Regions from separate parts of the Homo sapiens genome. Here region 2 is linked to region 1. Evidence: fine-mapped expression QTL. A gene starts in region 1. The other region holds a variant in brackets. All regions are shown on one strand. Distances are from middle to middle. Region 1 holds the start of MAP7 (microtubule associated protein 7). Region 2 overlaps MAP7 (microtubule associated protein 7).

Evidence for each region. PIP is the estimated chance that this variant, and not a neighbour inherited with it, causes the effect.
Region 2: its variant is fine-mapped to the expression of MAP7 in macrophages (Nedelec 2016, PIP 0.95).

The regions. Positions count from the first base shown.
Region 1 is chr6:136,542,348-136,558,736 of GRCh38, reverse strand. MAP7 (microtubule associated protein 7) reads left to right here and starts at 8,315. Exons shown (of 18, transcript NM_003980.6): 1 at 8,315-8,395. The coding sequence starts at 8,329. It overlaps MAP7-AS1 (MAP7 antisense RNA 1), which reads left to right and starts at 6,232. Exons shown (of 1, transcript NR_186370.1): 1 at 6,232-8,014. MAP3K5 (mitogen-activated protein kinase kinase kinase 5) reads left to right here. Exons shown (of 30, transcript NM_005923.4): 30 at 919-1,691. The coding sequence ends at 979. It also overlaps the pseudogene RN7SKP299. RefSeq lists silencers at 8,014-8,363, 8,404-8,583, 8,594-8,643 and enhancers at 7,865-8,402, 8,941-9,479.
Region 2 is chr6:136,361,208-136,377,596 of GRCh38, reverse strand. MAP7 (microtubule associated protein 7) reads left to right here. Exons shown (of 18, transcript NM_003980.6): 8 at 4,972-5,096; 9 at 11,158-11,270; 10 at 11,579-11,862; 11 at 14,895-15,147. It also overlaps the pseudogene RPLP1P8. Among named protein-coding and RNA genes, the nearest start is that of BCLAF1, 80 kb to the right of the region's middle. The variant G/TTG (reference allele first, on the strand shown) is at 8,027.

The DNA of each region.
Region 1 (16,389 bases):
TATCTTCCCAGGCTGGGTCTCTAATTAGCTTTGTAGTTCTGGACAGAGCTCTCTAGCTCTTAGCTGCTCTGAGTAAACTGAGTTAGTTGGACAATGATATTTTTGAGGGCTCTAATAACCAATATTTCTATATTAGTAAGTGAAAATCAACTGGAAGAATTTTTTTGAATAAGATGCAGACTAAGTCCATGCAGATATTCTGAAGCTGCCTTAAACAAATGCTTTAATTGAGTTCATGATGGTGTTATACTCAATAAATATTTGGAGGAGGTGCTGACTTGCCCTCCAAAAACCTGGTATAATCTGATATAATTTCTTGTTAATTAAGGCCAAGCATATAACTTTTTTTTTTTTTTTCGGGATGGAGTCTCACTCTGTCACCCAGGCTGGAGTGCAGTGGCGTGATCTCAGCTCACTGCAAGCTCCGCCTCCCAGGTTCACGCCGTTCTCCTGCCTCAGCCTCCCAAGTAGCTGGGACTATAGGCGCCCACCACCACGCCCAGCTAATTTTTTTGTATTTTTAGTAGAGACGGGGTTTCACTGTGTTAGCCAGGATGGTCTCGATCTCCTGACCACGTGATCTGCCTGCCTCGGCCTTCTAAAGTGCTGGGATTACAGGCATGCGCCACCGCGCCCAGCCCAAGCATAAAACTATTATACCCACCATTATAAAGACAAATTTCAAAAATGCTGAAACTCTAAAATGATGTTTTGGGACATAGCAGTTTGTGGGAGTGAAAAGGGAAGGAATGGAGGGAAGATGAGAAAAAATATACAAAAAGAATACATAATAACTGATCAGACTTTGGGATCTTCTTCTGACCAGAGCAGATGAAAGCTAAGAAGTCACTTTTCTATTTCAAGGGCAATGTTTCAAATGAAATGTTCGTTTCACCATGTTCTTGTGTCTTTAAACAGGGGAGGGATGCTGTGCACACTGTGGAAGGCTATCATTGACTTTCGAAACAAACAGACTTGACTGTTGCTCAATCTAATCTTCGATGGAAATTCTAAAAATTAATACAGAGCTGATCTTCTTGGGGGTGGGAAAATCGAAGGGAGAGGAGAAAGGCGCTGCACTTTAAATCCAGTATTTGTTTACTCATGTTAAAAAAAAAAAAAACAGACAAAACACACTGAAATTTCCTAACTACATCTATTTCTATAATTTTTAAGGACTCTTCATAAGGACTCTTAAAATAATCCTGAACATTAGAACCCTAATGTTCAGGAAGATTTTAATCTAAGCATTTTTATGGAAATATTTTTAATGCAGCAGCTATTGCACTTCAGCCAAATGTTTATTTCACACAAAACGGATGTAACATTTCATGTGATCGTGCACCACTGGAACAAAACCAAAATGTGACCATAACTGTTTAGGCTTCTGTGTGTTTGTAATATGCTCTAATAATCTGAGTAGAAATGCGTAATTTCAATTACTGTATAAAGTTTATGTTTTTTTAAGTGTGCAGAATCTGAGAGCAATGGTTTTTACTTCTCTGTGTTAATTGTAATATTGACTCTATTTTGTAACTTAAGTTTCTGACCTGTCGTACATTTGTTTGAGTCGTTTATGTACTACTGAACTGTACCAGTTGCACATGCTTGAACTGTAGTAATGTTAGCTTGTTCTAAAGCTATCCATTGTGTCATATTTACTCTAAAAATTAAAGAGACTCTCAACATACTGTTTTGATAAATTCTAAAGAATTTTTATTTTGTGTTGACAAACTAGATAATCTGCTGTGTTAAATTTCCAGTCATTTCTCCAGCTGTAACATTAAGTAAAATCTGTCTTCTATTCAAGCAGTCAGACAACTGACATTCAGGTTGTTCCTCAGAGGAACAGAGGTTTAAGAAAGAGGGTAAGCCTGGGCAACAAAGTGAGACCCCACCTCTACAAAAACTCAAAAATTCAGCTAGGCATGGTGGTGTACACCTGTGGTCCTAGCTACATGGGAGGCTGAGGCAAGAGGATCGCTTGAGCCCGGGAGGTCGAGATTGCGGTGAGCCATGATTGTGCCATTGCACTCCAGCTTGGGCAACAGAGTAAGACCCTGTCTCACCAAAAAAAAAGAAAAAAAAAAAAAGAGGATGAAGAAAAAAAAGAATAAAGGAAAGTCAGTATATTTTTCTCAAGGCCCCAAGTTATCTTGGATAACTATGGTATATCTTAAGGGGTCTGCAAAGACCATCTTAATGGAGAATACTGCTTGCTTTTTTTTTTTTTTTTTTTGAACAGAGTCTTGCTCTGTTGCTCAGGCTGGAGTGCAGTGGCGTGATCTCAGCTTACTGCATTCTCCACCTCCCGGGTTCAAGTGATTCTCACACCTCAGCCTCCTGAGTAGCTGGGATTATAGGTGTGTACCACCACACCCAGCTAATTTATATTTGTAGTAGAGATGGGGTTTCGCCATGTTGGGCAGGCTGGTCTCGAACTCCTGCCCTCAAGTGATCCGTCCTCCTTAGCCTCCTAAAGTGCTGGGATCACAGGGGTGAGCTACTATGCCTGGCCAAGAATACTGTATTTTTCTGTCTCCTTAATTTTCTTATATTTGGATAAACATTTTTATTTATTTTAAGCTGAGTAGTATATTTTTATGAGCCTGCCCATATTGATCAAAGGAAGTCTGATGCTCCTAGATGGATAAATGAAATACATTTTCTTAAATACAGAGGAACCTGTTTATTAGGCAGGATAAAAATAACATAGAGCTGTTTGTATATCATGATTTCACTCATAAACAACAGTCTTTGACAAAGCAGAAGACATCTTTATTTTGAAAACATTCTCACTAATGTTTTCTGATTGATTGATCGAGACAGGTTCTCACTCTGTTGCCTAGACTGGAATGCAGTGGTACGATCACAGCTCATTGCAGCCTTGTCCCCTTAGGCTCAAGCAATCCTGTCATGTCAGCCTACAGAGTAGCTGGGACTACAGAGGCACACCACCACAACCAGCTAATTTTTAAATTTTTAGTAGAGGTGGGATCTCACTGTGTTATCTAGGCTGGTCTTGAACTCCTGGCCTCAAGTGATCCTCCTGCCTTGGCCTTCCAAAGTGCTGGGCTTATAGGTGTGAACCACTGCTTCTGGCCTCTTTTTTAACATCCTAATTTGGAGGACAGAGTTGCCTCTGGTATCCTGTGTGGATATTCTGAAATAAGTGAGGTATAAATTCAATGATATGCCATTTGGCTCATACTGAAACACAGAGTAAGCCGTTTATTAAGCCACAGTTCATCTTCTCAATTCTAATGGTGAAGTGCTTCTTTTGACTGTATATAGGATCCAGCTACCCACCATAAACCAAATCTTCAAGGATACAATCTTTCCTTGGTACCTTCCTCTTACCCTGTCTTTGTGAGCAGATGATCCTCTGTCCCTACAGGGTTCTAACACACTCCCAGGCCAACATCATTAGCCATTTGTGAGAATTTTGGGTCTCAGGCACAAAAGAAGACAGTTCCATTATGGAAGACTCCATTATGGAAAGGTTTGCATTTGAAACGCTTTTAGGATCAATCTAGGCCAGTGATTCTCAACTCAGCTTCGCATTAAAATGACTTGGATGCTTTTTCAAAAATATTGATGCCACCACCTTGGGACAACTGAGTTGTTGTTGTTATTTGTTTTTTCTTGGGACAGAGTCTCTGTCACCCAGGCTAGAATGCAGTGGCACTGTCATAGCTCACTGCATTCTTGACCTCCTGGGCTCAAGTAGTCCTCCCACCTCAGCATCCCAAGTAGCTGGGACTACAGGCATGCACCACCATGTCTGGCTAATTTTTAAATTTTTTGTAGAGACAAGGTCTTACTATGTTCAGCTCACTCTGGTCTCGAACTTTTAGGCTCAAGTGATCATCCTGCCTCAACCTCCCAAAGTGTTGGGATTACAGGCATGAGCCACTGTGTCCAGCCGGAAAACTGTTTTTACTGGTCTGGGGTTGGGCCCAGATACCCTTTTTAAAAATTAGTTTCACAGGTGTTTTAACATGATCAAGCTTCACCTCCTTATTTCAGGTAACAGCTAGAGAGGGAAATGGAGAGCCCCTTTCTATAGAGGGAATAGCAAGATGGTTAACGTTCATCATTTGTTTAGCGTAGCAGGAGGCTACACACCCAGGCCTGAAGCAAAACTGTAACTTGACTTGTGACCTGGAACAACTGAATTAGTTTCTCCAAGTCTCAGCTTCCTCATCTGTGAAATGGAGGAAATGATGTACCTTCCACATAGGTCTGCTATAAGATGTAAATAAGAAAATGGAGGCTGGGCGCAGTGGCTTGTGCCTGTAATCCCAGCACTTTGGGAGGCCGAGGTGGGTGAATCACTTGAGGCCAGGAGTTCAAGATCAGCCTGGCCTACACAGCAAAACCCTGTCTCTACTAAAATTACAAAAACTAGCCAGGCGTGGTGGCGCACGCCTATAATCCCATCTACTCGGGCGGCTGAGGTACGAGAATTGCTTGAACCCAGGAGGTGAATGTTGCAGTGAGCCGAGATCACGCCATTGCAATCCAGCCTGGGCGACAGAGCAAGACTCTGTCTCAAAAAGGAAAAGACAATGCAGGAGAGGTGCTCAGCACAATGCTTAGCATACAGTAAACACTGAGATATGCTTGCTATTGCCATCACTTATCCTTCATTCAAAAGTATTTATTAAATACTGGGTACTACATATTGTGGTGCACCAACAAGATACAGTTCTTTCCCCTGAAGTTTCTTGTCAAGGAATCAAGACAAAGCAGAAACAACAGTGGTGCAGTCAGTGCTATAGTTACATTTACTGTCAGAAGGGGTCAAGGAAAGCTTTCCAGAGGAGTGAAGGTGCAGAGCTGAGCCTGGAAAGATGGTTTGAAACAGAACAGTTAATGCAGGGGTGGTGGCAGTGTTATAAAAGAAACAAAACAGGAATTTGCTGGGAGAAGTAGATCTAATGTTTCCTTTTAACTGCATTTTGATCTCTTTCTTCTGTCATTGGATACTTGGTTTCGTTCATCCCTAGGCCACCACATAAAAAAGCTTGGCATTGAGGAATTATTAACCCATTTGAATGCCCACTGTGTGTGAGGCACGGTAGCAACACAAAAGATATATACCATGCCTACCAAGTTCAGAATGCAGGCAGTGCACATGATGTCATCAAGAACATCTGCAACTCGTGAACAAATAAAATAACTGATAGTTCTAGACTTTATGGACACCCTGTAGAGAAGTAGAGGACAAAGACCCTACTACCAAAAATGTGCATCAGATTGAGAAGGCAAATTTGCAATAACTCATGCCTAGTCTATTTTAACAGCTGGACAAGTATCAAGCCCAGCAAGCCCTGGCCAGGTCCAAAGGACAGGCATGCTGGGAGCCAGGGCAGGAAGAACAGGCTTCATGGAGGAAGTAGACCTTAACCTGGGCCTCAAAGGGAAAGTATTATTAAATACGTCAGGATGAAGGACATCACTTCGGGCAGAGCAGCTTCAAGCACAAAGACTAGAAAGCAGGGATTTGGAAGGTGTTCTGGAGAATGAACAACTCCATGGGCTAGAAATATGAGTTACAGAGGTGAAAAGTGGAAATGGGTAGTAGAGAGCTCAGGGCCCAATTAGGGGGTGGTGGTGGTGATGGTGAGGAGGTGAAGTTAATATTTACTTATATAGGAACGGGGAATCTATTAAAGGTTTTTGAGCAAGGGAGAGGTATGTGTAAAGTGATTGTATATTGCAAGATTAATGTGGTTTGGAACATATTAAATTAACAGCAGGGTATCTTGATAGAATTGTGCAGGGACCATTCAGAATGTATTAGTGGAAGTCAGGAGTGAGGTTAAGGGTATATATTCTGGAGTTGGGAGTCACCAGGATCCGGGATGGAAGTAATAGTAAATGAGGGCTGTGAGAGACAGTAAAGATAAAAAGCCTGTGGTTTACAATTAGGGGATGGTAAAAATATTGGAGGATTAGAAGGGAGGAAGAATCTGAGTCAACAAAGACGAAAGGACTGCTACAGAGGAAGGAGAAAAACCAAGCCAATGGTAGACCAAGAGCAAGGTGATTAGAGGATCAAGTGCTGCAGAAACTCTAGGGGAATGATGGATTTAAAAATAAGTAATTTGATTTGTATACATAAGCAAGAAAAACTATTAATATATAGCTTTTTTTGAAAAATAACGGCACCAAAATCCACATTTATTTTTATTACCTTTGGTGAACAAAACATACGACAATAGATTCTGGAGGGTGGGACGTTAAAGGAAGACATTTTAAGAATCAAAGAGTCTTAGCTGTGTTTATTGGGGTAGAGCCCTTGGGTGCAGAAACATTTAGGGATTCGGGAGAAAAAAGGGATGATGTTTGAAGGAGGCAGGAGGGAAGTGGACGGTGTCAGGAGGTTCAGCTCCTCCCCTGGAATGGGGAACCCTGAAGATTTGAAATGGATGTGGGAGCTCCAGACAGATGGCTTCCATGTTCCAAGTAAAGTACAACTTGAAGTACGACGTGATGGTGTTTGACATTTAACAGATGTCATCTGTTCTCTGCAGAGTCACTCAGCAGCCTCCCCTGTTGCAGACACCTCCTTAGGTTTGGAACACACTGTCTATACAGGGCCTAAGTGCAGGATTTTGGTGTGTTCCTTATTTCATTTATTTTTGTTTAACTTGTGGCAGATAAATACAGGTTATCAAAAGAATGGGACAATGAGTAAGCACACACCAAACTAAACAAAACAAAACAAATAGAAACATCACAAGTCTTGAATTTTTTTTTTTTTTTTTTTTTTTTTTTTTTTTTTTTTGGTCAAAGAAAGAACTCATTGGTTGATTTAAGTCGGTGGTAAATCAGAAAGTTGAAAATAAATCACCCTCCTTCTCCAGGGTTCTTCCGGATAGTTCAACTCTAAATTCAGCTGAGAGTATTTCTGATGCTCAAAGAAAAGTGTCTTAAACTCTGATGTTTTAATGTAGTTAAAAAAAACACAAAAAATCTTTGCTGAGGCCCAAGCTGAGGTCAAAAACTACCTCTAGCCATCTGGTGCTTTATTTTTATTGATTAGAAGTCTCTGATAAGACTGATTTGAATGTGATTTAGGAATATCACATTCTAAATGGTCAGTTTGCCTATTCCATTATAGAAATGACACTACGGGAAAATTCATCATCACAGACCACAGCAGAAGTGTTCTTTAGTTAAAGCTCTACCTAGTCATCCAGAAAGCCAGTAAGTAAACCAAATAAAAATAGTTCACTGGGCTCAGAGTGGCAAGTTTTGCATGCAAAGATCGTGAAAATTGTAACCCTAACAATAAATCCAATACTGTTCTCGACTCTCTTGTGTGTCCAGTGCTGCTGCAGTCCTTGGAAGGCTTTTAAACTGTTCAGAGCTTGCTGGTTATCTTCAGCCAAGCCAGAGAGTGGGAGTGCAGTGCATTTTAGTGTAACCATGCGGAACTGGTCGCTCCTTGATTTTGTGCCGTATGTTTCCATTTGTGTAGGCTTTTTCCCCCCTCAGTATTTTGTTGCTTATCCTTTAGAGCGAAATTGGTTTTTCCTCGGCCAATAATCTGTTTCTTTAAAAAAAGAAAAATTCGTTACCTATTGCCTTTTTTTCTGGTCTTCCTGAGCAAGCCAGAAGTCACAAGGTCGTTTACTAAACGGAAACTAAGAAAAAGAAAAGCCACATCAGCCGGCACAAGCCTCTCTAACTTGTGTGCCCTGAGGCTCATCAGATGCGAAGTCCTGGCGACAAGATAGGGTCGCCCGCAGTGGCTTCCTAAAGCGCAGATCCAGGCCGGCTCCCAGCGTGGAATCCGACCCATGTACTTCGCCTCTCCACGTGGCATCAGATGCTCTGCCGGCTGTCACCGTGAACTCCAGCCCTCGCGGAGCCGACACTGACCTGGCTACTTCAGAGTTCGGAGGGAAATAGCGTCTCCGTACCCTCGCCCCACCTGGGCTGCTCCTCGGACCGCCGCTCGTCCCAGACTCCAGGAGGCGCCACCAGGCCTCGCTGACCCCGCTCCATATCTCCGGGAGCCCTCAGCTGGTCGGCCGCGGCGACCGGAAGCTCCGGACTGAGGTACTGGTTCCGCCCGCCGCTCTTCCAGCCGAGACTCGGCAGCGGCGGTCGGAGCGGCTGCCACGCCGCACCTGCCCGCGAGGGGGCGCGCCAGGCCCAGGCCGCAGCCGACTGCCGCGCTCTCTGTCCCCGCCCTCCGCCATCCCCGGACTGCGCTCACCTGTCTGGGCCGCTGGCCTGGGAGGCGGGGGCCGGCGGGAGCCAAGCCGAGGAAAGGGCGGAGCGGCTCTCCGGGCGCGTCATCGGAGCACCATGGCGGAGCTAGGAGCTGGCGGCGACGGCCACAGGGGCGGCGACGGCGCAGTGCGAAGCGAAACAGGTGACCGCACAGCGGGGATAGTGGGGGTCCCGTCGGGCAGGGGACGGCGAGCGGGGCCGGCGGGCTGGCACCGAAATCACCCGGCGCCGGCAGCCCCCTCCCCGCCCGCGCGGCCGCGGCCCGGAACAACCGGCCCTGCGCGCCGCGCACCCTGCTCCGAGAGCGCCTTCCCCCGCCCTTCGCCGCCGCGGCTCGGCCAGCCCGGCTCGGCCCCGGCCGGGGTTGCGGCCGCCCTCGGGCGCTCCACCGCGACTTTCCCGCAACAGGTGGAGGCGAGCCGGGGGAGGAAACGGAGAGACCCCGGCCGCTGCCCTCCCCGCCGCGGCCTCGGGTCTAATTCAGTTGAATGGGAAATCGTATCCCCCAGACCAAACCAGTGGCCAGAGAGTCGTCGGCCAGGTGCGACTGGCAGGACGAGCAGTTTCTGGGCACCTCCTCCCGCCTTCCCTGGTCGCCCCGGGTGCCGGGGGCTCCTCAGCGGGGTCGGTGTGGGGCAGGACCGCGGGGTGAGCGGCCCGCCCCCCAATCTGGTGCCCGCAGTGGCGACGACCGTCGTCCGAGGGGACCGAGCTCGGGAGGGCCGGGGCCCAGTGCAGCACGGTGGGGGTTTGCGAGTGCGGGCTTGACGGGATCAGACTTTCGTTGACTTGTCGGAGTTCTCAGAGTTTTTTGTTTTTAGTCTGTGCAGGAGCCCAAAGGAGGATTGTTGGCTCTGCAGCCCGGGATTTGGTGGTCAGGCCTCTGTGTTGAGGATACCCCTCCCCCACAACCTCCAGGGGCACACTTAGGGACAGGGGATCACGTCCCCAAGACCAGCAGCAAGGCTTCCCAAGACCAGCAGCAAGGCTTCCCAACCCCGCCCATCTCTCCATAGTATGAAGCCGATTTTTCTCCCTCGTGATTTTTTTTTCTCCAGAGGCTATCTTGCAAATCCGTCCCTCTCCACTGGTTCCCTCTTCTATTCTTGGCCAGTAAGCTGTTTCTATATCTTCCTACACTTGGGGATGGGGGCAGTGAGGCAGTTTCTTACTTTAAAAAGAAATTCAATTCTTAGACTCTCCAATTGCAAGCTGTTTTCCACTTCCATACGGTCACAATCGGAAGCATTTGTTTCCTAAATGTAAGAATCACTGTCTCCCCACCATCAAGTATGCTTATTTTAACGTGAAAGGTCCAGAGAGCTCTGAAACAGTATTTGCAAATTATGTATCTGCTATTGCTAGGAAGAGGTTGGGTACGTAAAGTCTAATGATTTAATCCCTTCAGCCAAGATACCTGAGGTTAAGACTGACAAAGTATCTTGAACTTGTTTAAGTCATGCTCCTTCCTGTAGGGAGTTTGTCTTAATGTGTTCGCAAGATTGGTAGATCATTATTTTGTTTTGGGGTGGAGAAGAGATGCCTTTGTAATTGCTTTCGGGAATTTGATGAGCTAGACGCTGGGACGGGGCTCCCCCAAGTGAGGGCCCCGGGAGAGGAGCATCCTCATTTGTAAATATACGGCATGATTTTCGTTCCTAACCCTGACCCAGTAACTGCATGTGAAACAACATTGTTCTAGCGAGCTAAGTGTTAGTTTGTGCTCAAAAATAAACTTTCTAGAATCTGCACGTGAACAACTTGTTCAGACATAAGTGAACTGACTACAAACTGTAGGATATTCAGTGCCTGAGCATGTTAAGGAATAGGCCGTGCTTCCAACAATTAATATACAAATCAACCATGTGCCTGTCAGTGTAATATTTTCTTTTATTAAAAAGGGAGTTAAATTGGCTGTTATCTCCTTCATAGAAAACATTTCTTCCACACTTTTGCCTAAAAACTTCATTTTCCAAAGGACATTTTTTATATATGGTCTTGAATAATTATACTTTATAATTTCACTGAAAACTTAATTCTGGCCCCGCATCTCTTTCCTATTTTTCTACCCCAAGATTACTATTAATGTTTTTAGTGTTCAGAAGCATTTGTGTCAGCAGGTGCCAAAGAAAGAAGGAAGGTGTAAATGTATTTTTTTGAATCTAGGTGGTAGTTATTTTGAGAGAACAAGTGAGATTGTTTGAATTTCAACAACTTAAGTTATTCCATATATTTAAAACACATGACCTATATCTGAATATGAGACTTTAATTTAGCACTTCATTCTGGTGAACATATTTCACATTATACACATCCAAATACTGCAAGTCTCATTTTTTTAAACAATCAGAAGTTTGTATGGAATTGTTGGGGGGGTGGGGGGGGGTGGTGGTGGTGGGTGGCCGTGGACAGAGAAACTATTACCATCAAGAGTTGAAAATTGCCACCTTAAATGGCAACATTTCTTGAGGGATTAATTTTATTTCTTTTTAGAACTCATTATTATGAGGTAGAGTCCACTCTTAAATAACTCTTAGTTTTTGGGTCTCTATACAAAGACTGGTCTAATTTTAGGGCACTTTAGATGAGAATATCAGGTTATTATAAAAATGATACCTGTAATGTGTTCAGAATTATATGTGTGAGTGTGTGTGTGTGTATATGTGTATCAAAGATGAATTGACAGTGGTGGCGTGTGGCCTATGAAATGAGACCGTTCTTAAGCATATTGAAAGCTATTATATAAACCCAACATTTAAAAACCCTATTTCTGTGGGTATATATTCTCAAAGTTAGTCAAATCACATTCTTTGTGGCGAAAACATTTATTTTTCTTGAGGATGAAAAGTTCTTCCAATATAATATTTTTCTTGCCAACAGCCAAAGTTAAGAGCTGGGAAAAAAAAAATTGCCTTGGAAACAAGTTTAAGACATCACCACTAGAGGATGTCAAGTCCTTTTTCAGCCTTTTTTGAGTAGTCGACCTACGATGGGTGATATTCACAAAACTGCCTCTACCCAAGCTTTGTATATTTAATTTTATGTTCATGTTCAAGAGCTGTGGAAAGCGAGTGTACAGCACTAATTTCCTAGTCTGATAGCCTGTTTTAAAAACCTCCTGAACTAAAAGCAAATTTAAAGCTGCTTTTGATTAATTCATGAAGCTTTCATGCACGAAGGAATAAGTTAATGCCAATAACCTGTCAATTCTGTTGATATTTTGGGAAGTGGGTCATGACTTAGAATCTGGAATTGGGCTTTTTGTCCATTTTAGCAACCTGTGTGGTGAACATGGCCTCTTTCGTGACCATCCTTTCATGAACTTTTCCAAATCAAAAAGTGATCTTGTAGGTGTCACTTAACTCTAAGGGTCCACATTAAATATCTGCAATTAAATAAGGGCTCAGACGTCAATTTGGTATTAAGCTTGTCCCCTTTGAAAGAGATGCTTCATTCACATAGCTAGATAGCTTTTCTCCCATCCTATATGGCTGTTACCTTTACATCTTGCTAAGTAGGAGGAAACGTTATTATTAGACTAGGCAATTGTGCTCAGGAGCATGCATTTATGTAATATTGATAGGCTTGTGTGAAATATTTTTACACAGTTTATTTACACTGGCATTTTCTCTAAAAAAATTCTAACATCTTTGCCTCCCAATGCATGAGAAACAATCATTTGGAAGAGTTATTTTTAAAAACTCGGGCCTCGTATTGATGTAAGAATTGAAAATATTGAGGCTTAGAATAAGAAATGTGTACCTTCTGTGTATTCAGCATTATGGTGGTTAGAAGGCTGTTGAACAAATGATCCTTGAATTTAGCAAGGAAGACAAAATTCACCAACAAACAGTTGCAGGTTATGAGGAGTTCAGTGAAGGAGGAATCACTTCCGGCTGTGGTCAGCAGGAAGAACATACTGGATACAGCACTGAAGTTAAATTTTAAAAAGTGGTGGAACTGGAGATCATTATGTTAAGTGAAATAAGCCAGGCACAGAAAGACAAACATTGCATCTTCTCACTCATTTGTAGGATCTAAAAATCAAAACAATTGAACTCATGGACAGAGAGAGTAGAAGCATGGTTACCAGAGGCTGAGAAGAGTAGTGGGGGTAGGGGGTGGGAGGTGGCAGGGAGGTGGGGATGGTTAATGGTTTGAAAAAAAAAAAGGCCAGAGGCAGTAGCTCACGCCTGTAATCTCACCACTTTGGGAGGCTGAAGCAGGCAGATCACATGAGGCCAGGAGTTTGAGACTAGCCTGGGTTACGTGGTAAAACCCCATCTCTACTAAAAATAAAAAAATTAGCCTGGTGTGGTGGCGCACGCTTATAGTTCCAGCTCTTTGGGAGGCTGAGGCAGAAGAATCACTTGAACCCAGGAGGTTGAGGTTGCAGTGAGCCAAGATTGCACCACTGCACTCCAGCCTGGGTGACAGAGCGAGACCATGTCTCAAAAAACAAAAAGTTAGAAAGAATAAGAATAGTAACAAATACTATTTGATAGCACAGCAGATTGATTATAGTCAATAACTTAATTGTACTTTTAAAAATATCTAAGAGTGTAATTGGATTGTTTGTAACACAAAGGATAAATGCTTGAGGGGATGGATACCCCATTCTCCATGATGTAATTATTTCACATTGCATGCCTGTATCAAAACATTTCATGTACCATATAAATATATATACCTACTATTTACCCACAAAAATAAAAAAAAATTAAATTTGTTTTAATTTAAAAAATAAAAAAATAAACTTTTAAAAATGGGTAAGTGGGATATAAAATTAGATGGAGGAAAGGGAGAAAAAGATGCAGGTGTGAAAAAGAGCAAAGTTTTGGTCATATTGACACATGTGTAAAGCTCAAAGAAAGTCCTAGGTCAGTTAGGAATGATTGTTCATCGAAGTCAAATTGTGGAAGGGCTGAAGGCCAAACTGAGAGGCTAGTACATTTTTCTGGGGTAGGGTAGTGGGGGAAGTGTTGAGGATTCTTGAGAATAAAGGATATTGATTAAAGCAGGAATAATCAGGTAGTTCTGTGCCCATGAATCTTGAAATATTGATTGCAAGTTCTAACAAGAGCTCAGCTGTGCCTTTAGCTAATGAAAGCAAAGTTCCTCCCTCTGGGAAAGTCATTCTCTTCCATTGATTTTTTTTTTTTTTTCTTTTACTGCTTTGGGAAGGGTGCACCTGGAGGGATGAGAATGCATGAGGAATATCTGCCTAGCCAGATTAGCCAAATCTCTGGAGATCAATGAAGGGCTAGGTCTACTCAGCTGGTCCTCATTTCAAAGTAGCAACGTGGACTTGAGGATGGACTGAAGAAGAGTTCAGCGACATACACACCAACTTTGAGATTCCTGCAGAAATCCAGGCAGTCATTAGCATGGCAATAGGAAGAGACGATTAATTTAAGGTTCTGCAGGGGCATGTGTCAAAGGATTGCAGGTAAAAAGGTGACATATGAGACTTTTCCAAGTTTGAGTTTGGCTCATTGACTTATTGGAAAATATTCATGAGGAGGACCTGTTTTGTTCTTTACCCCAAAGAGATGGGGGGCGGGTCTTGCTATGTTGCCTGGGCTGGACTTGAACTCCTGGGCTCAAGTGATCCTCCCGGCTTAGCTGTTCGAGTAGCTGGGACTACAGGCATGCACCACTGTGTCCAGCAGAATCAGGTTTTGGTGGGAGAAACAGGAAAAAAACCTCTCTGCTTTAGACATGAAAATGTGTGGTACAAGAGAGATCTGTAAGTGGAAATGTTCAAAAGGCAACTGGAAGTATAGGACTAAAAGAGAAAAATAGAGGTCAGGACTCTGGGATTCACTCCATAAAGGAATAATAGCTGAAGGTTTGGGAGTGAGGAGAGCTCAGAAAAACCACAAAGGGGTGAGACGACCTGTAAAGCATGGGAGGAGGAAGAGCCAGCAAAGCAGACAGATGGAAAAGCACAGCTGAGCAATGTCACACCTGCTGAGAGGGATGGAGAGGTAAGGGATTCAAAGACTGATGAAGACATTTTATAAAAAGCTGTTGGTTTGGTTACAAATAGTCACTGACCAACCCCAGAAGAGGAATTTCAGTTGTTGGTGCAAGAGTTGGGGCTACATCAGATTAGAAGTGATTGTGAGATAAGCAGTTTGGGAAGAAAGGTAGCCAATTTAATAGACCCTCCCATAAAGCTTGCTGGTGAGAGGAAAAAATTACAAATCCTTGAATAGGCAGAGGGATTTTAAAAAATCTATTCTAAAATTTGCGTACAGTCCAGGTGCGGTGGCTCATGCCTGTAATCCCAGCACTTTGGGAGACCAAGGCGGGCAGATCGCTTGAGCTCAGGAGTTCGAGACCAGCCTGGGCAACATGGCAAAGCCCCATCTCTACTGAAAATACAAAAATTAGCCAGGTGTCGTGGCATACATCTGTAATCCGAACTACACAGGAGGCTGAGGCAGGAGAATTGTTTGAACCTGGGAGACGGAGGGTGTAGTGAGCCGAGATGGTAGCACCACATTCCAGCCTGGGCAACAGAGCATGACACCTTCTCGAAAAAAATAATTTGTGTGCAAAAAAAATTACGGATTTTCTTTTATTTTCTTTTTTTAGTTTTGTTGACTGTATAGGTAATGTAAGCACCACCGTTAACATTATCCCAAAGAGTCCTCTGCCTCCAACCTAAATTCCCTAATGCTGCACCTTTGTAGTGAGACTCTCTTCCTACACCTAACCCCTGGCAACCACTGATCTGTTTACCATCTTCCTAGTTTTGCCTTTTCCAGAATGTCATAAAAGTGGAATCATACATTGTGTAACCTTTTTTTCTTTTTTTTTGTGAGACGGAGTTTTACTCTTGTTGCCCAGGCTGGAGTGCAATGGCACAATCTCAGCTCACAGGAACCTCCTCCGCCTCCTGGGTTCAAGCGATTCTCCTGCCTCAGCCTCCCGGATAGCTGTGATTACAGGCATGTGCCACCATGCCCGGCTAATTTTGTATTTTTAGTAGAGATGGGGTTTCTACTAAACCCCATCAGGCTGATCATGAACTCCTGACCAAAGGTGATCCACCCGCCTCAGTATCCCAAAGTGCTGGGATTACAGGCGTGAGCCGCTGCACCCAGCCCCACATTGTGTAACCTTTTGAGTCTGAATTTTTCACCTGGCATCATGTTTTTGAGATTCAGGCACACTGTTGTGCATGTTAGGATGTGGTACATCCTTTTTCTTGATGAAGTAGTTTGCCATTGTATGGAAGTATCACAGATGGTTTATCAAAGAACATTTGAGTTGTTCCCGGGTTTTGGCAATTATGAATAATGCTGCTGTAAACACTTACCTACAGGTTTTTGTGTGAGCATAGTTTTCATCTATTCTGGGTAAATACCTAGGAGTGGGATTGCTGATTCATGTAACTGTATGTTTAACTTTATAAGAAATGGCCAAGCTTTTCCAGAGCAACTCTACGGTTTTACATTCTTACAAACAGTGTATGTGAGTTCTGGTTGCCCTGCATCCTCACTAATACTTAGTATCGTTAGTTTTGTTTGTTTTTAAAACTTTAGCCATTCCACCAAGTTCTTTGAGTAAAGCAATGTAATCACCTCAAAGTAAAATAGTGCCTTTTTAATGCTAACCCATGCTCACATGAATTAGGAAAGCCTGGAGGTGGTGTTGATCCCAGAGCCTAGGTATAATACGGAATTTATATTTGACTCTAATATCTTTATTCTCCTTCATTCTTTTTTCCCCACAGTATTTCTTTTTTTTTTTAATTTTAACACACCATTGCTTGCTTGAAGAGCCATAGTATCTCTTATTTCCTGTGGAGTATGCATTCTGAAGTTGATTATAGACGGAAGTGCCATTATATAGCACATTCCCTGCCAATTCAAGTTCTCTCTTCCTCCTTAATGGTCTCTGTTCTAATCCCTTGAGATATGGCTTTCTAGAACTTGGAAATAACTTGTTTTGTTGTTAGAAAGCTAGACATATTGTTCATATACTTTGTTTATTATCCTGATTAATTCCTTATTGGAACATCTTATATTGTCAAACTGAATACTTACCAGTTCTCAGATACAGTGCTTTGTAAAGCCTTGATAGTCTGTCATTGGACGTTTCATCAGTTGCTCATGGTCTAAG
Region 2 (16,389 bases), 180 kb after region 1:
TGGGCATCTGCCTTAGCATCTTATCTGGACACCAGACGCCAGGCAGGCTGATGAAGCCTCTCCCCGGGCTCCGATGGCTTCAGAGGCTTCTGTCTGTTCATAACATTACCCGAAGAAAGTATTCCTTCCCTGCCTTTCCTTCTGCCTCTGTCTCTGAGCAGATAATCCAAGGTAGAAATAATTTAACATTTAATGCTAATATATGGACTTGGGAATAAAATCAAAGCGCAAGTCTGTTATTTCAGCATATAGTTTCATAATGTGGCTGTGGCATAGCTACTACTTCTCCCTGTGCCATTCTTTTATATGTAATCTAGGAATTGTACCCTTCCAGAACTCTCAGAGTTGTGGAGTAGGCTAATTGTAATATGCTTATTTGTTACATTCTTTGAAATTATATGAAACATGCTTAGTACCAGTTATGATGATTGGTTATAACTCCTACTTTTTTGAAATGCAAAACATACCTGAATTAGCCAGTTAATTTAATGAGAAGTTAGTGTGGAGCCTACATCTAGTCGGTAAGCCTACATCTAGTCGGTAAGCCTACATCCAGTTGGTAAGAAAGGCTTTGGGTAACGGATCTCTCCTGGTGAGTTGATTTAGGTTTTCCCAAATATCTTTGGGGACAATTGGTGTATTTATATAAACAGTCTACTAGCCCTCATCTTTGGCACTTTAAAAGTGCTTTGCCCTTGCAAGCCTCTCCATGTTCATTAGCCTGCTTTTAAGTAATAATTGTTGGTGGTTTTATGGTGTCTTTCATCTGCAGTGCCCAATGAGCGAATAAATCTCAGTCCTAAATCTCATAGTACCCCTGGGAGACAGTCACGAAGGCAAGCGTGGGCATTCCCACAACCTTCTTATGAAAACCAAGTGCAGCGACAATAAGTGACTTACACCAAAGCCACTTAGAAAATGGGCAGACAGGATCATAAATGTGCTTTCCCCTCCATCCTCAATGCCCTGAATGATGCTTTATGTGCAAATGTGCAGTCAACTAGCTGAACCACAGTGTTCTGTGTTCTCTGTAAAGTCACACTCCTGTCAGAGCCATCACATTGCATCTGAGGTTTTCCTGGAGGAGGAGAAAGTACAGCTTATTTCAATATTTTTTCTTATGCCTATGAATTTCACACTTTTCTACAAGTCATGAGTTTTTCTTTAGCTAATTGAAAAGCTTTTAAACCACTTTTCAGGCCGGGCGTGGTGGCTCACGCCTGTAATCCCAGCACTTTGGGAGGCCGAGGTGGGCAGATCGTTGAGGTCAGGAAATCGAGACCATCCTGGCTAACACGGTGAAACCCCGTCTCTACTAAAAATACAAAAAATTAGCCGGGCGTGGTGGCGGGCGCCTGTAGTCCCAGCTACTGTGGAGGCTGAGGCAGGAGAATGGCATGAACCTGGGAGGCGGAGCTTGCAGTGAGCTGAGATCACACCACTGCACTCCAGCCTGGGGGATAGAGCGAGACTCCGTCTCAAAAAAAAAAAACCGCTTTTCAGTCCTATTTTCTAGCATTTAGCTGGTTTATGGCTGTCATGCTTCTGAATCTCCCCTTGTATGCTGTGTTGTGCTAAAGGACTGCCTCACAGCTGGGAAATTGTCTTTACTATTTTTGTCATCACTAACTCTTGTCACTTCTTTCACTCTCCCTCTAGTCTTTTCCAATACTGTTTCCTCATTTTCCACCCATTCTACTTGCCCATCTTCTCCCCTTCTTTGTTGTTATGCTCAACCAAGGTGCTTTTTTATCTGCAAACCGGCTCTTTATTTTGACACATTTCCATTCTCCTTTTCACAAGTTGATATGTTTCTGTAATTTATTTTAGTGTGAAAGAGTGCATAGCCTTTACTTGAGCTGCCTGTTTTGTCAATACATTGCCTGCTTCATTGTCACCAGTTTCATCGATACAGCTTATGTTTAATGAACCAAAATTCCTGGGGTTTTTTAAAATTTTCATTTAGAAGTATATATGCAAACATCTCTTCCGATTATCTTGTCAAAACCACATTTTCCATCATTTTTATTTTTCATCTATTGTCCTTGATTATTCTTTCATGTTTTCCCATTTTAGTGTTGTCCCTCAACCTCATCATATTCCTAATTGCCATTGGCAAGAAGGTAACCTATAATATGTCCTGTACTGGGTTACATCAGCAGATTAAACAGCTACTTTTAGCCCTGGGATATAGAGTGATTGCAAACTCCCTGCACAAACAATACAGTAGTTGAGAACTGGAACTCCCAGTCTCACACCTCTCATTTGCAGCCACTGCTTTGGGTTGACTTTTCTATACTTTTTTTCCCCGGGACATTCAAAATACAAGTGATTATTAGAGCTCAGGATTAAATAATGTATATGCAATGCTTAGACTAGTACCTGCACATAGTAGGCCCTCAGTAAATGCTAGTACCGTATTACCATATTATGCCATTTTTCTTTTTGCTATGCTACATTTCAACTACTTGACCTGCATTATCTTTTCTCTGCACCCATTATTTCGTATAGAAAATCCTGAACGAGTTCAATTAATGCATACTTACCACCAAGAGTAGGATCAAATACATATATTGTGGGAGACTTTCTTAAAGACATTTTCGTGAGACAGTGTTCATGTTTAATTAACTATTTGGGATATGAAGTGTACTCTGGGAAAAAATAACTATATATTGTTATTATTTCTTAAGAAGGGCAAGATTATTCAAATAATTGATTTGAAGATTTCAGGTTTTTCAGTACTTGCTATTCAGTGCAGCAATGAATTCCATGAAATCTAATATCCTTACAAGAAACTTAGGTTTATTTTAGCCAAAAGATGTTCTTTGGACTAAATTTGAGGATGTTTTTCTATGGACTATACTAGCTAGGTTTAAGGATATTTTCAACCCATATTTAGTATCATGTCAACATTAAAATAAAGAATAAACCAGAGGCCTGGTGATATTGGCTTACATCCATGATAGCTTCAGGAAATGCTCCATAGATACTTCATGAAATTGTTATTTTCCACTTGAGAGAAAAATCATATTTCTGTACTTCATTCCTTTTTCAGTGTCAGACCCATGGCCTCCAAGCAGAGCTGTTTTCTAGGGTTTCTTGATCCTTGAGCAAGGTGAATGGCCTCCGGCTGTGCCCTGAGCAGTGCGTGCCTCTGCCCCCGGTTATTAATCCCCAGAAGTGCCTTGTGCCAGGATGTTATTTCTTAAATGCATTTGATTGGCTTGGAAGAATTTTGCATTAGTGAACTCTTGTCTAGAAAATGCAAATGCCTTGTTGTGGCGCTTGAGAAAAGATTATTTTCAAAGAGTTTTTCCTGTGATCCCAGGCAAAATGACAAAGAGATTCCCTTCCTTCACAATACAAATCCTTCCTTCTCCATTAAGGTTGGAAGTAAAGCTTTATGTCAGTTTCCAATTAAGACGTACATATATTATTTTAAGGAAAACTGAAGAAATGAAAAAGTGTTTTAGTTTGTCCTGAAGAAACAGAATTCTGTTTTCAAATGATGGGAAAAGAGACCGGTTTCCAATCTATTCACTGTCAAGGCTGCAGTGAGCCGAGATGAGATCGTGCCACTGCACCTCAGCCTGGGCAACAGAGTGAGATCCTGTCTCAAAGCAGAACAAAACCATGCAGTGATAGCCAGAAGATACTGCCAGGCATTTAATGAAAGAGTGCATTAATAAAGATGCAATCTGATTGACTTTCTGTCTGTAAATTAAACCCAAATAGCAAATCTTTTTTCAACTCTATAATCCTGAAGTTAAGATCACCCCAAGTTTGTCTTGTGAACTTTTGAGTTAAGTTATTAATCCTCTTACATTCAGCTGGCATAGTGGTTTCTTTAAAGGGTTGCTACAAAGACTACAGTTGAGAAGTCCTTTTATAACCATGTCCAAATACATAGTATTCTCTATACTTGTGTTTAATTGTCTTATTTTTGCTAGGAAATAAAATTTCTGAATGAGATCTGAAAATGGACCTTAGAACCTGAATACTCACACTTTTGATACCTATGCAGTGTTATATGAATTTCCTTAAACCCACTGTTGTTTGCAATAAGTTGATTCATGACAGTGTTCCTTGGAAGGTAATGGTCAGAAGCTATGTAGTTTTTCATAAAATATTCCATCTTGAGTAAAACTGTAAAGGTTCTTCACGGTTCAACCTTACATTTGGCAGATCTAACATATTTCTGTTCTATTCAACATTTTAAATAGATATAGCTAATCTCCCCATATGCTCTAATGCTGCTTCTTATGAACTATCAAATGCCTTGGCTTTTGGGAAAACCCGGAAGCATGCATTTGGTTTGCCTATAAATAAATAAGACATGTACAGAATATTTTCCTGGAAAAGTATTACTTATCCTCGTGACAAGTCTTAACACCTGGTAAGACTTGTTCACTTAACATTTTTTAAGTTTGGTTGCTTTTTTCCCCTGCTGGCTGTTGAATTTGAATCCTGAAACAGTTGTAGTATATCTTGCTTGCCTGCTTGCACGCTTCCTCTCTTTCCACCTTTTGTTCCATCTTAAAGCTAATTTAGGAAAAGTCTGGTTATAAACTAGTCTTTATATAAAAATTATCTTTTATCACTAATGTAGTTTTTTTTCCAGAACCATCAGCTAATAGGAATATAAGACCATTGCTCTCCATAATTACTGGATTACTTCTACATCTTTCATTAGTATTTAAAGAGCCAAAGAGCTAACAATATATTCCAGATTTTTTACGTGGACATGCCTTCCTTTTGGACTCATCATAAATTCATAGGACTGTAAGGACAGTTGAGTATGATGGTTCTGGGCACCTTTAGGTAATAACATCTTCTTCCTACTTTTCTCTCTATCTCTGCTTTGCTCCTTTTCCTGAACCTGCTTTTGGCTTTCTTCAACTGCTCCTCTGGCACTCTTGTGTGTAAAACCAATCACCTGCACCCTAGTTATCCCCATTTGTCCTCGTTCAGCATCTTGCAGCCCCATCATCATGCCCTACAAAGCTGCACACTCTAGAAATTCGATGGATCGACCAAAACTCTTTGTAACACCACCTGAGGGCTCTTCTCGCAGGAGGATCATTCATGGCACAGCGGTGAGTAGCTGTTGGGAGCAGCTGGGCAAGTCTGGGAGCCAGTGCTGTTCCTGTGCAGACTGTACATGACCCTGAGCTGTGGTGTGGGCGTAAGAGGGGGAGACCGTGACATCCACCATCCCATCTTTCCCATTGATCATGAATCTGGCTAGCTGGGCAGTAGTGTCCCCTCACTTCCTCTTCACTTGGGGATTTTGCTCTCCCTAAACATTTGAATTTGAAGATGAAAGCTGTTCTTTGTTCAAGCATGTATGAGTGGACGCCCTACCCTCCTGGAGCGTCCATACACATAAGTACAATGCCAGAATACTTTCATTTTTGAAAGTAGGAAAACCAAATGGCCTTTGAAGGGGAAGTGGGCTTGGACTGCTGCCTTGGCATTTTATTTCAACCATATCCAGAAGCTGGCTGAACTCTAAATGTGGTTCACTCAAAAGCAAGATAAAGAATTTTTATCCTGCTTGGCTAATCCCTGTCAAGGCCCTGTCAAGGGATCTTAAAATTTAGTCAAAAAAGTATTTTGAAAACATTAGTCATTTGCTATATCACTAATTCGTAAAAGGCTGTTAGGCTGTGCTATAAATTCTGATTTTGTAAGTGAAAAATATAATTTGTACTTATTATTACGGGCTGAGGTAATGTTAATTTTCACCATGCTATAAATGCAATGAGGTAATTTGTATGTCTCCAGGAATCTTCTTCTTTGTTTTAAATCTTGTGTTTATTTGGTGTCAGTTGAAAGATATAAACCTTGTTCTGTGGTCTTTAGACATTGTACTTTAGTCTTAAAGGACTCACCAGTGAACTAGAAGATCTCATTGCCTCTCTCCAGGATAACAGTATGACCCTTTTGATGAAAGGCTGAAACAGTTTCTTAAAATCGTAACTTCCCAGAGCAATTCAGATTTATAAACCTGATGGACACTTAAAAGGATTTTGCTTAAAGGATAATTCAGGGTTGTGAGAGCTTGATGGCTTTGCCTACAGCCTGTTTTTCTTTCAAGCTCCATCGGCCTTTCTGGAATCAGTGTTTGATTCATGATTGAGTCAGGCCTCCAACCCTCTAAGCCACAGGTGAAACAATCTTTGATGTCTGGAAAGTTTTAATTTATTAGAGTGTTGGTGTTTCAGAGATCCTCCTTAGCTGTAGACAGAAAGCCGTAGTTAAACAGAACAGGTTGGCCCCAAAGTTGGGTACTCACTGGGCAGGGGAAAAGAGCATTTACCATGGAAAAACTATCTTGTTCTGGGTAAAAACAAAAATTAACACTCCTTGAGAGAAGGTTGAGGGCCACCTGTGGCTGACAGGTTAAATGAGAGATTTGTCATCACATGATCCAGAGCCTTGTTTTGTTTTGTTTTTATTACCTTCCTCTTTCTCTATTTAATCACATAGCTGTCTTTTTACCTCTTTACAACCAAGTATTTAGGCAAATACTAACAGAAAACGACTCAGAGTCATTTATACCCTGGAGCTGCACTGTGGAATTCAGTAGTGACTGGCCACAGTGAGCACTTGGAAAGTGGCTACTGAAACTGACAAGCTAAATTTTAAGTTTTTAAAAAATATTTAGTTGTGTTAAAAAAAAAAAAAAGCATGTAACGTAAAATTTACCATTTTAATCATTCTAAAGTTCAGCAGTGTTAAGTATATTCATATTGAAGTGCAACCAATGTCCAGAACTTTTTAAGTCCTGCAAAACTCAAACTCTATACCCATTAAACAACTCCCCATTTCCCCCTCCCCCCAGGCCCTGGCAGCCACTGTTTTAATTTCTGTTCCTATGAATTTAGCTACTTTATAGACCACATAAAAGTGAAATCATGCAGTGTTTGAATTTTTGTGCCTGGCTTATTTCACTTAGCATAATGTCCTCAAGGTTCATTCTTATTATAGCATATGTCAGAATTTCCTTCCTTTTTAGGGCTGAATTATATTCCATTATATTTGTATACCACATTTTGTTTATCAGTTCATGTGTTGGTGAACATTTGGGTTGCTTTCACCTCGTGGCTATTGTGAATAACGCTGCTATGAACATGGGAATATAGATATCTCTAGAGATTGTTCTTTCAATTTCACTTGATATATAGGGATTGCTGGATCATATAGTAATCCTATTTTCAATTTTTTGAGGAGCCTCCATGCCATTTTCCACAGCAGCTGTACCATTTTACATTCCCACTAACAGTGCACAAAGATTTCTGTATCTCCACATTCTCGCCAACAATCGTGATCTTGTTTTTTGATAACAGCCACCTTAAGGAATGTGAGGTGATGTCTTGTAGTTTTGGTTTGCATTTCTTTAATGATCAGTGATGGTGAACATATTTTCATATGCTTGTTGGCTTTTCATGTGTCATCGTTAGAAAAATGGCAATTCCAGTCTTTGCTCACTTTTTAATGGGGTTATTTTGTTTTTGTTGAATTGTAGAGTTATTTATATATTCTAGTAGTAACCCCTTATTAAATATATGACTTACAGATACTTTCTTCTATTCCATAGGTTGCCTTTTTACTCTACTGATTGTTTCCTTTGATATATAGAAGTGTTTAAGTTTGATGTTGTCCCATTTGTTTATTGTTAATTTATTGACACTTTATTGCCTACGCTTTTAGTGTTATATCCAAGAAATCAGTACCAAACACAGTGTCATGAAGCTTTTCACTTATGTTTTCTTCTAGAGGTTTTATAGTGTTAAGTCTTACATTTAAGTCTTTAATCCATTTTGAGTTAACTTTTGTATATTTTAGAAGGTAAGAGTCCAACTTCATTCTTTTGCATTTGGATATCCAGTTTTCCCTGCATCATTTGTTGAAGAGAATGTCCTTGTTTCATTGAGTGGTGTTAGCTTTTGACCATATACACAAGGGTTTGTTTCTGGGCTCTGGATTCTATTCCATTGGTCTATATATCTTTTTTTTTTTT[G/TTG]AGACAGTCTCACTCTGTCACCCATGCTGGAGTACAATGGCACAATCTCAGCTCACTGCAACCTCTGCCTCCCAGGCTCAAGCAATTCTCATGTCCAGCCTTCTGAGTAGCTGGGAATACAGGCATGTGCTACCACGCCCATCTAATTTTTGTATTTTTAGTAGAGAGAGGGTTTCGCCATGTAGGCCAGGCTGGTCTTGAACTCCTGACCTCAAGCGATCCACCCATCTCGGCCTCCCCAAATGCTGGGATTGCAGACATGAGTCGTAGTGCCCAGCCCCATATATCTATATCTGTCTTGATACCATTACCACACAGTACTGATCACTGTAGCTTTTCACCAATTGAGTATCTCTAATTCAAAAATACAGAATGCTCCAAAATGTGAAACTTTTTGAATACCAACATGACACTCAAAGGAGATGCTCATTGGAGCATTTCACATTTCCAGTTATATGGATTAAGGCTGCTAAAGCAGTAAGTGTTAATGCAAGTATTCCAGAATCTGAAATCTGCACACTGTAATCCCAATCATTTTGGATAAGGGATACTCAACCTGTAATATGTTGTGAAATCAGGAAATGTAAGAATTCCAACTTTGTTCTTTTTCAAGATTATTTTGGTTCTTCAGGATCCTTTGAAATTTTCTGTGAATTTTGGGTTGAATTTTTATATTTCTGCAAAAATAAAAAATTATATTGGGATTTCAATAGGGAATGCATGGAATCTGTGGATCCCTTTTGGTAGTAGTGACATCCTAACAGTATTAAATCTTCTAATCCCTGCACACAGGACTTCCTTCCATTTATTTGTGTTGCCTTTAATTTCTTTCAGCACTATCTTCTAGTTTTCAGTATGCAGATCTTTAGCCTCCTTTGTTAAGTTCATTCCTAAGTACTTTATTCCTTTGGATGCTATAGGAAATAGAGTTGTTTTTCAAATTTCCTTTTCTATTTTACTTAATTTGAATTAATTTAGATTTAAATTCAAATAGGCAAATGTGGTTAGTGGCTAAATTTAGAACATCTTCATCATATCAGAAAGTTCTATTAAACAGCACTGCGTTAAAGTATCTGTCAGTGAATCGTCTCTGTTGGAGGATATTTATACTGTATTCTAAACCTACCTTAATTATAAAATTAAAGTCCTTTTCCTGCTGATATGTTGCCCAGACCATTGACTTGCTGAGTATGTGTTCCCCCTCAGCATTGTGGAAACTATTAATAGGAAAGATGATTGTATAGATGGTGGGCTATTAACTCAGATCAGGATGAGAATTGGGAGTGCCTTTACATGTGTGGTACCCAAATGGGTGGTTGGATATAAGAGTAACAAAAGGACTGAAAGGTTTAAAAAAGAAAGAAAAAAAAAAACTCCCTGGTTGGGAGGGTGTTAAGTATCGAGTGTTTTTCCAAACCATTCCTCCTCTGCTCACCTACCCCTAGGTGATTAAAGGAGATAACTTTTAAAAAAGAAAGAATTGGCTCAAAGGTACTGTAATTCTAGGATTATATACCTTTATATAGGTTCATTCCCTGATCCCTGTATTATCAAGGCACAGATAATAATAATCCCCAACCACCCCCACGCCACATCAAAAATTGTCCCTCTTGAGTCTTTTTCCCATTTACATCACCCATTGATCTGATTTCAGCCAAATCAAAATGTTTTGAGAAAAAGAAAAAAAAAGAAGGGCTACTTGAGGTACTTAACCCCAGTCTCCCCTGGGAAAAGACCTGGGCATGCCACCCTGTACACCAGCCAGGAGTGCCCCATATGGTGGCTGCAGCTTTTGATACCCAAAGCCCACAGCAGCTCTGTGAGGCCCCACCTCCTACTTTTGGGGACCTAAAATGGGAGAAATGGTGGTTGAGCAGCTGGAAATGATGCAGAGCTGGCACACACCTTGTGAAGCTCTTCTCTGCCTCTTTCTTCATTTTTTCTGTTTAGAAATCCCAGGGAGACAATGAGCATTATTTGACACTTAAATGTTTTTGCTCCTCTGATAACCCAGACCATCAACTAGGATGCTGCTAAGGAAAATGGAGGGAAGCAATTAAAAGGGACACTGAGGGGAACAAAAGGGAAAGGAAGGAAAAGAGGAGTCGATGCTTGAGCCAGGCAGAAAAGGAGAGAAGAAAAGGTACAGTACTAGTTCATGTGACCTGGGGCTAGATAATACTCTGCCCCTTCCCATGTACGCTTGCAGTCTGCCCTCCTGACAGGTGTTCACATAGGTGCCTCCAGCACGTGCCCCTCCCACCTGAGGGCATTGTCAGGTTTCAGATACTTGGAATGGGTCTGTTTTGCTCTGTACAATTTTTGTTTGTTTGTTTTGGTCTTCATTGACTTTAGAGTAGTGGAACACTTCTCTGGGCTTCCCTTTGCCCATTTTGACTTAGGAAAGTGTCATCTCTCAAGCTGAATTCCTAGTTGGCAATCAGGGAGGGGTGATGTTTTGGCCCACCTTCAGATTTCAGTTTATTCCTGGTAAGGAAGAGCAAAAAAATAAATAGCTGAAATTCCTCACTTTAAACCTGACTTTTCTTCAAAATCACCTATTGTATCAGTTATCTATTGCTGCAAGAGGACAGTAGGTGAAGAAGGACTTGATTCCATTATACAACATCAATATAAAAGAAAAAAATGAGTTTATGTCTAATATAGCAGGCATATAATTTTTTTAAAGACTGAGATATAGTGTGTTTGGGGGGAAAATGTTGAAGAATTAAAAAGAAAAAGATGTGTTTTAATTAAAATTTTTTAAAAAATGAAAGTAACATTTGACATTTGTGGGGGATAAACCAGAATGGGACGTTTTGCTTCAGGTAATTAATTTTAGACACAAAGTATAGGTGCTTTCTAAAAGTATGTACACACATATGCTTTTTGACAAATATGACTCCAACACATCCGGAATCACCTTATTAGTGTCACATTGTGTTAATTCAGTTATACTGTTCAGTGTTAAGCTAACAAGGGCCTTTTGTTGAGATGGAATGGGTATATGTGACATAGCTAAGAAAATTTCTTAAAAGTCATTCAATGGTTTCTAGCTCCACTGTTGAGTATTGTGAGTGTGTTTGCCTCGCTTGTGGAAAAATCTAACTATTGAGTTTCTCTGAACTTAGAGCTATAAAAAAGAAAGAGAGAGAGAAAATGTACTCTTCCTCACATCTGGCACCCGAAGGGCTGTATCTCCATCTAATCCCAAAGCAAGACAACCAGCTCGCTCCCGACTTTGGTAAGTGAAATATAAGTGGCTGGCTGGGTTGTTTCATGTTAGAGAATTAGTAGCTCTCTCCTCTGAAAGTGAACTGTTCTTCTCATGCTGTTTGGCTTTGACTTAGGGAATAGCATTCTTCCCAAAAGGAAAGAAAAAAGAGAAATTGGAATGGTTCCCTAAAGCAACTCTATTTCTGTATCTACCACATAAAAAACAAATACACGGAGCTAAATATCTGCATTCTCTTCCATCGAGTCGTGTTCTAGGTTCTGGCAAGCCTGTTCTCATGTGTCCCCTTTTGTCTGCCTTGTTTGTTTGTGGCCCAGGCTTCCGTCCAAGTCTCTTCCTCATTTGCCTGGCACACCCAGACCGACATCCTCCTTGCCACCCGGCTCAGTCAAAGCTGCTCCTGCTCAGGTCCGGCCCCCATCCCCCGGCAACATCCGCCCTGTCAAGAGGGAAGTCAAAGTGGAGCCTGAGAAGAAAGATCCTGAGAAGGAACCTCAGAAAGTTGCCAATGAGCCCTCACTAAAGGGCAGAGCACCTTTAGTGAAGGTAGAAGAAGCCACAGTTGAAGAGCGGACACCTGCTGAACCAGAAGTTGGCCCTGGTAAGAGCAAACTCACCTGTGGTCTGGGTGCTCTCTCTTTTTCTCCCGCACTGTTTTGATGAAGCTTTTTTTGTTTTCCTTTTCTTCTTTTATTGGAGACTTGGAAATTTTACTCTAAGGTTAAGTTTAATACCTTTCCTTAAGTATAATATTTTAACTTCGCATTGCTTAAAAATAGTTTTTTACTTAGCAACGCTAAGTAAAAAATTACCTGGCAACACTATTCCTGTGCATACTGGAGTTTAAGGACCCCTGGCGTAGCCTGTGTGCTTGATAGAAGTCAGAATTTTTTCCAGAAGACCCACTGGTTTTCACCTCTGCCAGGGTAACCAGATGCTACTTAGAAATGTAAAACCACCTGGAGCTTGAAGTTCAATATCTCTAGTTGAAAACTGTCTTCATTCCAAAGTTTTCTACTTAAGACTTAATTTGAAGATAGAGGGTGGGGCAAGAAAGAGGAGATGATTCAAGACAGGTGAAAATGGTAGAGAAAGGAGGAGTCCAGTGTTTGCTTCCATGGAAAAAGAAAGAAAGGAAAGGAGGGTCATAGAACATCATAATAGCCATGAAAAAAATCTGTGGAAGCAGAAGTAGAAATGTAAATCTCAAATCATACATCCAAAAGCCTATTGATAGAGCCACAAACACGTGAATTCAGGTGTAGGTTCTCAGTGCTTTTATTGGCTGAGTCCATTTCACAAAATGTGTTCAGAGCACCTGCATCAAAATCACCTGTTGTATTCATTATCTATTGCTGCATAATGAATTAGCAGCATGAAACAACAACAAACATTTATCATATCACATGGATTCTTGGGTCAGGAATTTGGCAGCAGCACAGCTGGGTGGTCCCTGCTCAGGACCGCTCATGAGATTGCAGTCAAGCTGTCCACTAGAGCTCCAGTCATCTCAAGACTCAACCAGATCTGAAAGGTGGCTTACATACAAGGCCGGGGGCGGGTGGCCTCAGCTTCTCCACACATGGACCGCTCCATATTATTGCTGAATGTCCTCATCTATCTGCTTGCTCTGCTGGCTTCTGCCAGAGTGAGTGACCTGGAAGAGAGAATGAGGAGGAATGTACAATGTATTTTATGACCCAGTCTCAGAAGTCGCACACCAATGTTTCTGCCACATTCTGTTAAGTAGAAGCAAGTCACTAGGTGGAACTCACACTCAAGGAGAAACATAGTCTCCAACTTTTGAAGAGAGAGTTTTCAAAGAATTTTTTTTAAGAGTTCAGCTTTTTATTGAACTTGTTACAAAAGAGGTTTAGTCAAAAAGACCAAAGCCCATATCCTCCTTGGACTCCTCAGACTCTCTTTTCTTTGCTTCTATTTCTTCTCCTCAGCTGGAACAGCATTGGTGGAGGGGGCAGGACCTTCTGCTGGTGCAGGTCCACGAGCTCCTCCATTGCAGATGAGGCTCCCCATGTCAACATTGGCCAAGGCTTTTGCAAACAAGCCAGTCCAAAAAGGTTCAACATTTACACCAGCTGCTTTAATGAGGGCATTGATCTTATCCTCCTTGACGGTCACCTCACCCTCATGCAGAATGAGGGCCGAGCCTTATGCAGAATGCAGGCGAGCTCAGAAACAGAGGCCATGGTGTGAGCAAGTGTGGGGCTGGCACTGCCAGGCAAGGTGCTAGTTGCCAGATGAAGTGAGGGTTCCACTTCAATGTGGCCCTACATTCCTCAGAGGGACCGAGTGCAGCTTGGCAGCAGCTGAGGAAAACTGGAAATATTTTTAAACCACCACATCTATAATGTTTTGACATACAGACCCTTGGTTTTTACCTCAGACTTACTAAGTCAGAATATGTAGTGGTGGATATGAGGACTCTGAAAGATACTAAGCTTGTCAGTTGATTCCTAAACATGGTTGCCAGATAGAACACAGGGTGGCCAGTTAAATCTGGCAATGCTATTCCTGTGCATACTGGAGTTTAAGGACCCCTGGTATAGCCTGTGTGCTTGATAGAAGTCAGAATTTTTTTCCAGAAGGCCCACTGGTTCTCACCTCTGCCAGGCTAGCCAGATGCTATTTAGAAATTTAAAACCACCTGGAGCTGTGAATTCAATATTTCTAGTTGAGAATTGTCTTCATTCAAAAGACTTAATTTGAAGATAGAGGGTGGGGCAAAGAAAGAAGAGATGATTCAAAACAGGTTAAAATGTTAGAAAAAGGAGGAGTCCAGTATTTGTTTCCATGGAAAAAGGAAGGAAAGAAGGGCTAGAGCATCATGATGGCCGAGAAAAGTCTGTGGAAGCAGAAGTAGAAATGTGACTCTCAAAAGGAGGGGCTGGAGCAGCCAGGGGCCAGAGCTTGCACTTGCTGGTGCCTTGCTCACTGTGGTGCAGAATTGTGAGCATCAGTGTGGGGCTTCTGGGGCACCAGCTCTCTAGGTCATCTTCCTAAATCCGAGTAAGGCCAGAGAACTTCTGCTCCCATCTTGCATCTTGGCAGCTTGGGATATATAAGCAGAATGAGCACCAGCTCCCAAAGAGGCCCCGAGCTCCTCCCATCTCAGACCTAGAGACAGCTCTGGGGAGACAAAAGGGTCCTCTTCATAGGGTATCATCTTCCCAGGCTGAATCTGGACTCATGGCATGGATGCTGAGGATGCTGCTCTAGTAATGAATGGTTACCGAAGAGTAGGAATTTTCAAATGCAATAAAAGACAAATGGATGATCTCATCTTCTTTTTGCTCAGTGTATAACTCCCCACAGACTCTAACATGAGGCTTTGTACACATTCAATATATGTTAACTGATTTAACTGGTATAAAAATAAGACTTGGTGACAGAGTGTCAGCTTTGTTGGATGTCTTACTTACACATACTGATTTTTTTTATCTGTTGCTTGGTTACAGATAGAACATAGTGAAACCGTGAGAACACACAGTAATAAACATTCCCTTTTCTTTCATAATGGTAAATTCTAGGCCTTGGATGTGGGGAATGCTAGTTTTGGTTTTGTTCTTTGGATTTTGTTTCCAACTGGTTTTCTCCTTGTACCTATTTGTGCAGCTGCTCCAGCCATGGCCCCAGCTCCAGCCTCGGCCCCAGCTCCAGCCTCGGCCCCAGCTCCAGCCCCGGTCCCCACCCCAGCCATGGTCTCAGCCCCGTCATCCACTGTGAATGCCAGTGCTTCTGTTAAGACTTCTGCAGGCACCACCGACCCAGAGGAGGCCACAAGGCTTCTAGCTGAGAAGAGGCGGCTGGCCCGAGAGCAGAGAGAAAAGGAAGAAAGGGAGAGGAGGGAGCAGGAAGAGCTTGAAAGGTAAATGGGAGACATTGCTCCACACCATGGTGTCAGTGATACTTTGGATTAACTCATCACCCCTCTGAGAGGGAGGAGGTGATAATACTGATGAAAGTGAATGGATTAGTTCTTTCAGGATTACTCTTACCTAATTTTCCTATGACTACTAAGCAGTTTGTTTTTTAAATCACATCTTCTTCTTTTTTTTAAATAGAAATGGGGTCTCACTATATTGCCCAGGCTGGTCTCAAACTCTTGGGCTCAAGGGATCCTCCCACCTGAACCTCCCAAAGTGTTGAGATTGCAGACATGAGCCACCATGCCCAGCCATGTTTTCTTATTTTAATGACAGTGCAACAACATTGATGGAGAAAGCTTTAAAGAAAAAAAAAATCCATAATCATACCAATTTTCAGTAATAGTGTACATTTTGGGTGGTCCTTTCTAGTCTCTCAACAGTATGGGAGTGTGTGTGTATATATACATACATATACATATTTACATAATTATAACCACAGCAGAGGTACAATTGTACAGTCTGCTTTTTTACTTAACACATCTCCAATCTCCAGGTTTCCGTTTTATCTTTGTAATTATCACATTAAGGCTGCATAATAAGGGTTCATGTTTTCTCCTTTCCAGATAAAACTCCTCTCGGAGGGTAGCCAGGTGGGATCTTTACATGCCCCATGATTGCCTGCCAGGCAGTATTCCAGAAACAGTTTGTTTAATTGGTCATCTTCTGGGCCTAATAAGACGAATGTCAATATAATTGTTCTTCAAACGAACACAACTGTACCCTGGGGAAGGATCTCATGCACTCGCTGGACCGCCATCTTGGCCATGCCTTTCCCTTGGCTCCAACAGGGAGCTTACATGGCTGTCTTCCTCCTGTCCTGTGACAGAACACTGTGACCCTTATTTATTTACAAAGATTCCCTTTGGCTGGGGTGCTTCAAATTCATTACTAAGAAGTCACATTATTTGAATTAAACAAGTCAGAGCCTTTAAAAAATAGTTAAATTCCTTCCAAAAAGCCAGCTCTCCCCAAGATATTGGTGGTTACACGTTGCTTCTATTTAGCACGGACAGCAATGCAGCTGGCAAGGCGGGAGGAAGTCTAAGGGTGGCTTCGCGCTTTGTCCCTTAGCAGTGGTGAAGGCATCCAGTGGGGATTTTTCTACTGGACGCCTAAAGGAACCGCCCTACAGAACCACCGACGGAGGCCTCTCTTCAAAGATTTCTCCTCAGGTGTCTTTG